Regions from separate parts of the Homo sapiens genome. Here region 1 is linked to region 2. Evidence: fine-mapped expression QTL. Tissue or cell type: whole blood. Region 2 holds a variant in brackets; the other region holds the start of a gene. All regions are shown on one strand. Distances are from middle to middle.

Region 1 (5,147 bases), 32 kb after region 2:
CCAGCACTTTGGGAGGCTGAGGCGCGAGGATCACTTGAGCCCAGGGGTTCAAGACCAGCCTGGCCAACATGGTGAAACCTCGTCTACTAAAAATACAAAAAAAATAGCCAGGTGTGGTGGCACATCCCTGTAAACCCAGCTACTCAGGAGGCTGAGGCACGATAATTATTTGAACCTGGGAGACAGGGGTTACAGTGAGCCAAGACTGTGCCACTGCACTCCAGCCTGGGCAATGGAGCAAGACTCTATCTCAAAAAGAAAAGATAAGGAAAAGAAGAAACAAAAGCTCTCAGGAAAAATCCTTCCGCCTCTTCCAGCTACTGGGGTCATGAGTATTGTCCTTATAAGAGAAAGAGACAGCTGGACTAGGTGACTCACGTCTGTAATCCCAGCATTTTGAAAGGCCAAGGCGGGCAGACCACGAGGTCAGGAGTTCGAGACCAGCCTGGCCAACATGGCAAAACCCCCGTCTCTACTAAAAATACAAAAATTAGCTGGGTGTGGTGGCGTGCACCTGTAATCCCAGCTACTCGAGAGGCTGAGGCAGAATTGCTTGATCCTGTGGGGTAGAGATTGCAGTGAGCCGAGATCGTGCCACTGCACTCCAGCCAGGTGACAGACCGAGACCCCATCTCAAAAAATAAAAATAAAAACAAAAAAGGAGAAAGAGACACAGGGAAGAAGGCCACATGATGATGCAGGCAGAGCTTGGAGTGATGTGGCCCCAAGCCAAGGGACACCAACTATGGCAGGCCACCCCCAGAAGCTGGAAGAGACAGAGAAGATCCTCCCGCCAGAGCCTTCAGAAGCACCACGGCCCCACCACATCTTCATGTTGGGCTTCTGGCCTCCAGACTTGTGAGAGAATAAATTTCAAGCCTCCCCCTGCCCCCTGGTTTGTGGTGCATTGTCACAGCAGCTCCAGGAGGCTCATGTAAGAACCAAAGGCGCCGGGCGCAGTGGTCACTTTGGGAGGCCGAGGTAGGTGGATCACCTGAGGTCAGGAGTTCGATACCAGCCTGGCTGGCCAACATGGAGAAACTCTGTATCTACTAAAAATATAAAAATTAGCCAGGCGGGGTGGCGTGCACCTGTAATCCCAGCTACTTGGGAGGCTGAGGCAGGAGAATCACTTGAACCCACGAGGTGGATGCAGTGAGCCGAGATCGTGCAACTGCACTCCAGCCTGGGCAATAGGGCGAGACTGTCTCAAGAAAAAAAAAAGAAGAAGAAAAAGAAACCAACCTGTTTGGGTAGGGGAGAGTTCAGGGAGGTTGGGGTTGCTAGAGCAGCAGAAAGGTCAGCTGCCTCCCTCATTCCTCAACATGGGTGGTGGGTATAAACAGAATAGACCCTTGCAGCTGCGCGGTGGCTCACGCCTGTAATCCCAGCACTTTGGGAGGCTGAGGCGGGTGGATCACCTGAGGTGGGAGTTCGAGACCAGCCTGGCCAACATGGTGAAACCCCGTCTCTACTAAAAATGCAAAAATTAGCCGGGCGTGGTGGCATACGCCTGTAATCCCAGCTACTTGGGAGGCTGAGGCAGGACAATGGCTTGAACCCGGGAGGCGGAGGTTGCAGTGAGCCGAGATCATGCCATTGCACTCCAGACTCCGTCTCAAAAAAAAAAAAAAAAGGACCCTTGCTGTCTTATCACCAGGACAGCGGTGCTAACGTATAAGTGAGGTCTCTCCCTCAGGGCGCTGTGGACACTGGAGCCTGGGTCATTCTCTGGGCTGGGCAGGGTGCTGAGTTGCATCCCTGGCCTCCACCTACTCCATGCCAGGAACTGCCCCCAGTTATGACAACCACAGACGTCCCCAGACATCGCCCGGTGTCCCCTGGAGGGCAGGACCGCCCCTCGCTCAGACCCTCTGATGTGGCCTCACTGCAGTGCGAGCGTGGCAGCCCCTCTCTGCCTTTAGGGTAGAGTCAATGCGTCTTCTCCCTCTCCTTGCAGGCTGGGCCTCGGAAAGCTTATGCGTCTCTCACCCAGGGGCGTTTTCACAGGGCAAGGGCAGACCGTGCCATCCTGGGCGTTGGGGCCCTGGGCGAGCTGCCGGCTCCCGACCCTCCCGTGGGGACCCTATCGCGACAGGGTCATGCCCCGGCCACCCGGCCCCGCCAGACCCAGCCCCACCAGAGCCCCGGCAGGCCCGGCACGGAGGTCGCGGCGCGGGAGGCGGCGGCACTTACGGCTGAGCTGCCGGGAGCCGCGCGCGCCGGCCCAGGTGGGCGCAGGTGACCATCGGGGCGCGCGCTGAGGCGCCAGACAGGGCCCCCGAGGCGGGAGCGCCCCGTGCAGGCCGGCCGGCCTCCCCTGCGTGTCCCTGGGACGCCTCCTCCGCTCGGCTCCTCGGCGCTCGGAGCGGACGCCCCCCGCAGGCGCCCCTCAGGAACTCGCCGCAGCCGCCGCCACCAACCCCGACGCGCGCAGAGGTAAACTCGGCACTGCGCCTGCGCACCCCGAACCTGCGAACTACAAGTCCCAGCAGGCCCCGCAGCGCGGCGCTGGGCTCCTGACTCTCCAACCTGGGTCACAGCGCCGCCTCCGGGCGGGCGGCGTCTCCGCAGGACCACGATGCCCCTGCGGCTGTTGGATCCACCCCGTGTGGTTCGCTGGAGTCCCCGGGTGTTGTGGGGTTCGCGGAGCCAATCCTCAAATCCCAGCTCCGTCGTTTCCCGGCGGCTTGCCATTGGATATTAATAACTACTATTATTTATTAAGCAAGTTATATAAACGTATAATGTATTACATACTTATTAAAATGATTGCTTAAGTAATTGTTGTTTGTTTTTGAGACTGAGTTTCGCTCTTGTCGCCCAGGCTGGAGTGCAATGGCATGATCTCAGGTCACTGAAACCTCCGCCCCCTCGGGTTCAAGCGATTATCCTGCCTCAGTCTCCCAAGTAGCTGGGATTACGGGCGTGCACAACCACACTCGGCTAATTTTTTATATTTTTGGTAGCGACGCGGTTTCACCATGTTGGCCAGGCTGGTCTCGAACTCCTGACTTCCAGTGATCTGCCCGCCTTGGCCTCCCAAAGTGCTGGGATTACAGGCGTGAGCCACCACGCCCAGCCAAATTAAATTATTGTTTAAATATTTATTTAATATTCTACTGATTGTTATTTATGAGAAATTAAAATAGTAAAACTACTATAATTAATATACTGTTGTAGGATACAACAAATTCCTCTTCAAAGGTTTTAGCCTGTAAATTGTTAAGTACAATCAGTTATGAGCTCCTCTCCAAAGAACCAATGTTTCCGTATATTCAGCTCCCCTGTTCTTTTTTTTTTTTTTTTTGAGATGGAGTCTCGCTCTGTCGCCCAGGCTGGAGTGCAGCGGCGCGATCTCGGCTCACTGCAAGCTCCGCCTCCCAGGTTCACGCCATTCTCCTGCCTCAGCCTCCCAAGCAGCTGGGACCACAGGCGCCCGCCACCACGCCCGGCTAATTTTTTTGTATTTTTAGTAGAGACGGAGTTTCACCGTGTTAGCCAGGATGGTCTCGATCTCCTGACCTCGTGATCCGCCTGCCTCAGCCTCCCAAAGTGCTGGGATTACAGGCGTGAGCCACCGCGCCCGGCCACCTATTCTTTGTTCTTCATTTTAAACTTTAACTTCCTCGTTCTTTTCGTTTCCTTGCCCCTAGTTTCAGTAAACAACCCCTCCTAGCCCCTATCACCTGCTCTGACCTTAGTCACCCTTGGTCACCTGCTCTGACCTTAGTCATCCTTGGTCACCTGCTCTGACCTTAGTCATCCTTGTCACCTGCTCTGACCTTAGTCATCCTTGGTCACCTGCTCTGACCTTAGTCATCCTTGGTCACCTGCTCTGACCTTAGTCATCCTTGTCACCTGCTCTGACCTTAGTTATCCTTGGTCACCTGCTCTGTTCTTAGTCACCCTTGTCACCTGCTCTGACCTTAGTTATCCTTGGTCACCTGCTCTGTTCTTAGTCACCCTTGTCACCTGCTCTGACCTTAGTTATCCTTGGTCACCTGCTCTGACCTTAGTCATCCTTGGTCACCTGCTCTGTTCTTAGTCACCCTTGTCACCTGCTCTGACCTTAGTTATCCTTGGTCACCTGCTCTGTTCTTAGTCACCCTTGTCACCTGCTCTGACCTTAGTCATCCTTGGTCACCTGCTCTGACCTTAGTTATCCTTGGTCACCTGCTCTGACCTTAGTCACCCTTGTCACCTGCTCTGACCTTAGTTATCCTTGGTCACCTGCTCTGTTCTTAGTCACCCTTGTCACCTGCTCTGACCTTAGTCATCCTTGGTCACCTGCTCTGACCTTAGTCACCCTTGTCACCTGCTCTGACCTTAGTCATCCTTGGTCACCTGCTCTGACCTTAGTTATCCTTGGTCACCTGCTCTGACCTTAGTTATCCTTGGTCACCTGCTCTGTTCTTAGTCACCCTTGTCACCTGCTCTGACCTTAGTCATCCTTGGTCACCTGCTCTGACCTTAGTTATCCTTGGTCACCTGCTCTGACCTTAGTTATCCTTGGTCACCTGCTCTGTTCTTAGTCACCCTTGTCACCTGCTCTGACCTTAGTTATCCTTGGTCACCTGCTCTGTTCTTAGTCACCCTTGTCACCTGCTCTGACCTTAGTTATCCTTGGTCACCTGCTCTGTTCTTAGTCATTCTGAGTCACCTTTTCTGTAGCCGTCCTTCCTGCCAAACTACTCACCCCGCCACTCTGGCTCATACCCCTGCTCTTTAAAACAGCCAATCAGAATCAGCTTAGACTGTGCGGGCCAACCCTAGCCAATAGGGGAACAACACAGCAGTAGGGGTACCTGCGTCAGGGGTAAGAACCCCTTCTCCTCCCTCGTTCAGGTGTGCTCGTTCAGGCGCCGCCAACCCCGACTCGCGCAGAGGCAAACTCGGCATTGCGCCTGCGCACCCTGAGCCTGTGAACTACAAGTCCCAGCAGGCCCCGCAGCGCGGCGCTGGGCTCCACCTGCCAGACGCACCCTTCTATAGAAGTAAAATTGCCGTGCTGAGAAAATTAATGTTCGAGTGCTGTTTCTTTTGTGGCACCGAAAATTTATTTCTAACACTATAAAGGTTCATAATATAGTCTCACTAATTGCATTAGTCAGTTCTCACACCGACTAAGGCAAGGGCCACCACGT
Region 2 (5,147 bases):
CAAAACACTCTAAGATGAAAGTTTTATTTACTGAATCGTAAGAAACTACCTGTTCAAATTCATGTAGGATAGCTGAGAGTATTTGGAGAATTATTTTTCAACTAAATGTTTATTTGCAAATGAACTACAGACACACTCCTTGAGTGTCCACTTTCAGGATAAGGAACTCATAAAGGCAACACCATATTTACAACTTTGATCAGATCTCTCTCCTGGTGTGACTTTTCTGAAGCACTGCACATGAATTCATTTGCAGGAGGATGTCCTACATTACACTTATACTGTTTTTCTGTAGTGTGTATTCTCACATGTCGCCTTAAGGATGAGGAACAATTGAATGCTTTCCCACAATGCTTACATTGATAAGGTTTCTCTCCAGTGTGCAGTCTCATATGTATTGGTAAAGATGATGGCCATTTGAAGACCTTCCCACATTCCTTACATTCATAGGGCTTCTCTACAGTGTGCGTTCTCACATGTTGTTGCAAAAGTTCAGGCCAACTGAAAGCTTTCCCACACTGCTTGCATTTATAGAGTTTCTCTGCGGTATGTCTTCTCATATGTTTTTGTAAGGATATGTGGCAATAGAAAGCTTTCCCACATAGCTTGCATTCATAGGATTTGTCTTCAGGGTGCATTCTCACATGTTCTCGAAAGCAAGCAGACAAGCTGAAGGCTTTCCCACACTGCTTACATTCATAGGGTTTCTCTCTAGTATGTGTTCTCATATGTTTTCGTAAAGATATGGGCCAATTGAAAGTTTTCCCACATTGCTTGCACTCATAGGGTTTCTCTCCAGTGTGCACCCTCATGTGTCCTCGAAAGGAGGAGGGGTGACTGAATGCTTTCCCGCACTGGTTGCATTCATAGGGTTTCTCTCCACCATGAGTCCTTTCATGTCTTCGAAAGGACTGGGGATAAATGAAGGTCTTCCCACACTGTTTGCATTCGTAGGGTTTCTCTCCAGTGTGAATCCTTTCATGTCTTCGAAAGGACTGGAGATAAATGAAGGTTTTCCCACATTGTTTGCATTCGTAGGGTTTCTCTCCAGTGTGTGTTATCATGTGTCTTCGAAAAGCCGAAGAATAACTGAAGGCCTCCCCACATTCTTTACATTTATGTGGCTTCTCTCCAGTGTGTGAAATCATATGTCTTCGAAAAGTTGAGGAATAACTAAAGGCTTCCGCACATTCCTTACATTTATATGGCTTCTCGCCAGTGTGTGTTATTGTGTGTCTTCGAAACGTTGAGGAATAACTGAAAGCTTTCCCACATTCCTTACACTTATATGGCTTCTCTCCGGTGTGACTTCTGAGATGACTAGTAAGACTTGAGAAGTCAATAAAGGCTTTCCCACATTGCTTACATTCGTAGGTTTTCTCAGCAGTGTGAATCCTTACATGCCGATTGAGGGAGGAAGTACGAGGAAAGGTTTTCCCACATAATTTACACACATAGGGTCTCTCTCCATTGTGGGTTCTCACATGCATTCTTAGGTGTGAACGACAACTGTAGGCCTGCCCACATTCCTGGCACTGATATGGTTTGTGTCCAGTGTGAACTGTGATGGGACTCTTGAGGGATGTGCGGCGATGCATGAAGACTTTTCCGTACGTGTTGTATTCATACTGTTTTACTCCAGGTGGAATTTTCTTGTACAGATTAAGATGTGGAATCTGGCTGAGGGCTTCTCCACATTGATCATTACTTTCACAGAGTCTCTCCAACCCATGATTTCTACTAAAAATGAGAAGCATGTTATTGGTTTGATTAATAATGATTTGTTAGTATTTATTAGGATTAGGACTGCATCTTAACCATTTTCAGTGAAAGCATAGGTTTTTCACCCCATGGGAACTGTCTGAAAATGAAATAAACTGAATGCCCTGGAAGATGGTTTGACCACTGCCATTATTAAAACAGTGTTTCTTATGTATAGGGTTTCTTTCTCTTTCTTTCTTTTTTTTTTTTTGAGACAGAGTCTTACTCTGTTACCCAGGCTGGAGTGCAGTGGTGCAGTCTTAGCTCACTGCAACCTCTGCCTCCTGGGTTCATGCAATTCTGCCTCAGCCTCCCGAGTAGCTGGGATTACAGGCCTGCGGCACCATGCCCTGCTAATGTTTGTATTTTTAGTAGAGACAGGGTTTCACCATGTTGGCCAGGCTGGTCTCGAACTCCTGTCCTCAAGTGATCTGCCCACTTCA[G/C]CCTTCCAAAGTGCCAGGATTACAGGTGTGAGCCACCGTACCTGGCCTAGGGTTTCTTGATAATGGTTTCCATCTGAATTATGTTTCTAATGTCACTCACTGTCTATGTCACATTTAAAGAAATATTTTTTTGTAAAAATTCTGTGGATTAAACAAATTGGAGCTAGGCTTGGATGAGTTTTCTGTTTGCTTGCTTTTTTAAAGTTTAATGACAGACTAAGATTCTCTCCTGAAATACTATGTTCTCTTGTGAGTGCAACTCACCTGAGATTTCTCCCCTGGTTTGTGGTTTGATCTTCGATGCTAAGACTGTCCCAAATTTTTCCTAAAACAGAGGCCCAGGAAACATTTCTGGTGAACGTGGCTATTTTAGATTCCTTGGGTATTTTCTCTCCATAAATATCCTGCTGAGAAACTGACCCACTGGCCTTAAATTGAGTTTCATCATCTGAAACCAAAAAGTAAACAAATCATATAAGAAGGCACTTGTTAGCGGAAAACGACACTGAGGAGTTTAGCTATCTCAGGACTTCATTAAACACAAAATGGTCAAAAAGGTAAGCAACTCAATCAACACAGTATTAGTAAGCATAGAAAAATTATTAAAAAAAAAAATTCACGGCCAGGCGCGGTGGCTCATGCCTGTAATCCCAGCACTTTGGGAGGCTGAGGCGGGTGGATCACAACGTCAGGAGTTCAAGAGCAGCCTGGCTGACATGGTGAAACCCCGTCTCTACTAAAAATACAAAAATTGGCCAGGGATGGTGGCGCTCGCCTGTAATCCCAGCTACTTGGGCGCCTGAGGCAGATAATTGCTTGAACTCGGGAGGCAGAGGTTGCAGTGAGTCGAGATCACACCACTGCACTCCAGCCTGGGCGACAGAGTGAGACTCCATCTCAAAAAAAAAAAAAAAAATCAAATTTTCACTGGCTTGCACAAACAAATTTCACTAGGCCTATCAAAGCTATATCCACAATGACGACATGAAGGGAGCTTTCTCTACAAAAATAAAAAGCTGAAATACAGATTCTCATTCTCATGGAAAAACATTACATTCTAGCTCTATGACAGCTGTGACTATGTCTGTCTTATTTACCAATTTATTCCCTTTCCACATTCCAAGCCTTGGAACAGGTCTGATGTGTAAGAAATACTTGTTCTCTCAATAACTACGTGAAGGAAGGAATGATGTCATCCTTACCTACTGAGGCCAGGTTCTGAAAGGTCTCCAGCATCACATCTCTGTAGAGGTCCCTCTGAGCAGAATCCAGCAAAGCCCACTCCTCCAGGGTGAAGTCCACAGCCACATCCTCAAAGACCACTGAGTCCTAAAACAATTCAACATATTTATGGGAGGATGGTTGAGACCGAGAGCCCAGGAGCATTGTACTCAATTCGTATGTAGTTCAAACAAGATTCTGTGATTCCCTGACATCTACCCTGTGACTCAGTTGTCACACCTCTTCCTTCCTGTCTACACTCACTTCCTCATAGATTTCACAGGACCATTAACACACTGAATTTCTCTCTATACTTTTACTGGGACCAACTGAAGACATTATTCTCTATCAAAAGGATTCAGACCACATTGGAGATATCAAACAAATGCTATATAAGTGAAACAAATACTTGTATTTTAAGACCATCAGTGCCTTGTCACACAAACCGTTTTAGCTCCTCCCCTGCTGCACACACCATCATTCGGCACTACACAAAGCACAGGGTCAAAACTGAAGTTTTATGGGATAAAAACACTGAAGGATTGGGAACATTCCCTTCTATTTCCTTCATAAGGGCCAGGTAGCCATAGCGTCTTAAAGAACTCCTGGTCCAACTGGCTGAATGAAAACATTCTTTTGAGAAGTATTGATTTTAACTTGGAAACTAGAAGTTATTGAGAAATTAGACCTTAGGAAAGAGGAAAAAGACACGAGAACGTAGACCTCCACACATTCCCTATACTTCGAGCCTCAGTGACGGAAGCCCAACAATTAATTCTGGGTTCTCTCTCTCTCACACGCTGGCTCTCTCTCGTACACACAGGCACACTCACTAAGTATACACAGAGCGAGGTGCACACAATGCCAAAACAGCTCTTTTCACCAGAGCCGAAAGAAAGTATTCTTGGGCCAAGTGTGGTGGCTCATGCCTGTAACCCCAGCACTTTGGGAGGCCGCGGCAGGCAGATCATTTGAGGTCAGGAGTTCAAAACCAGCCTGGCCAACATGGTGAAACCTCATCTCTACTGAAAAAAAAAAAAAAATTAGCCGGGCATGGTGGTGCACGCCTGTAGTCCCAGCTACTTGGGAGGCTGAGGCACGAAAATTGCTTGAACCCGGGAGGCAGAGGTTGCAATGCATCAAGATCATGCCACTGCACTCCAGCCTGGGTGATAGGGCAGGACTCAGTCTCAGAAAAAAAAAAAAAAAAAGTATTATTGCTAACCTTAAGGATAAAGTTAAGAGTCCCACTTTGCAAAGGAGTTAACTGAAGTCCAAACCATTTGACTACGAATTTTCAATGGTTATAAAAGACATAGACAAAATAGTGCCTTCCTAGAAAATTCTGTGTCTCAAATTCCAGGAGGAAGTGATTCCCCACATACCACTCTAGAGGCTGCACTCTCAATTTCTCATTATTTCCATATTGCATATTGGGCACAGGTGCATGGAACCCCCGAGATGCACGGTTCCCTCAAACCTGCTGAGAAAGATCAACTCCTTTCCGTCTATGAGCAGGAGACAGACAAAATACTGTCACGCAGCAATTCTGATGCTAGAACAGTCCTATTCACAGAGCTGCAGAGTATCTACAGGACCCTCCTACTGGCACAGGGGACAATATGAGCTCCCTGGGTTAGCCTTAATTGCTCATAGTGCAGTGTATTTGCAGTGTTTTTTAATAATAAAGTTCCCATATGCCGAAAGAAGTTAACATTGCGG

The links. PIP is the estimated chance that this variant, and not a neighbour inherited with it, causes the effect. A credible set is the group of variants that fine-mapping cannot tell apart.
Region 1: it holds the start of ZNF554, and the variant in region 2 is the best candidate, but not a certain one, in a credible set for the expression of ZNF554 in whole blood (INTERVAL, PIP 0.63).

The regions. Positions count from the first base shown.
Region 1 is chr19:2,817,174-2,822,320 of GRCh38, reverse strand. It overlaps ZNF554 (zinc finger protein 554), which reads right to left and starts at 2,453. Exons shown (of 5, transcript NM_001102651.2): 1 at 2,197-2,453. The coding sequence starts at 2,249. RefSeq lists an enhancer at 1,349-2,042 and a silencer at 1,975-2,414.
Region 2 is chr19:2,848,973-2,854,119 of GRCh38, reverse strand. ZNF555 (zinc finger protein 555) reads right to left here. Exons shown (of 4, transcript NM_152791.5): 2 at 3,407-3,533; 3 at 2,469-2,652; 4 at 1-1,740. The coding sequence ends at 168. Among named protein-coding and RNA genes, the nearest start is that of ZNF555, 10 kb to the right of the region's middle. The variant G/C (reference allele first, on the strand shown) is at 2,205.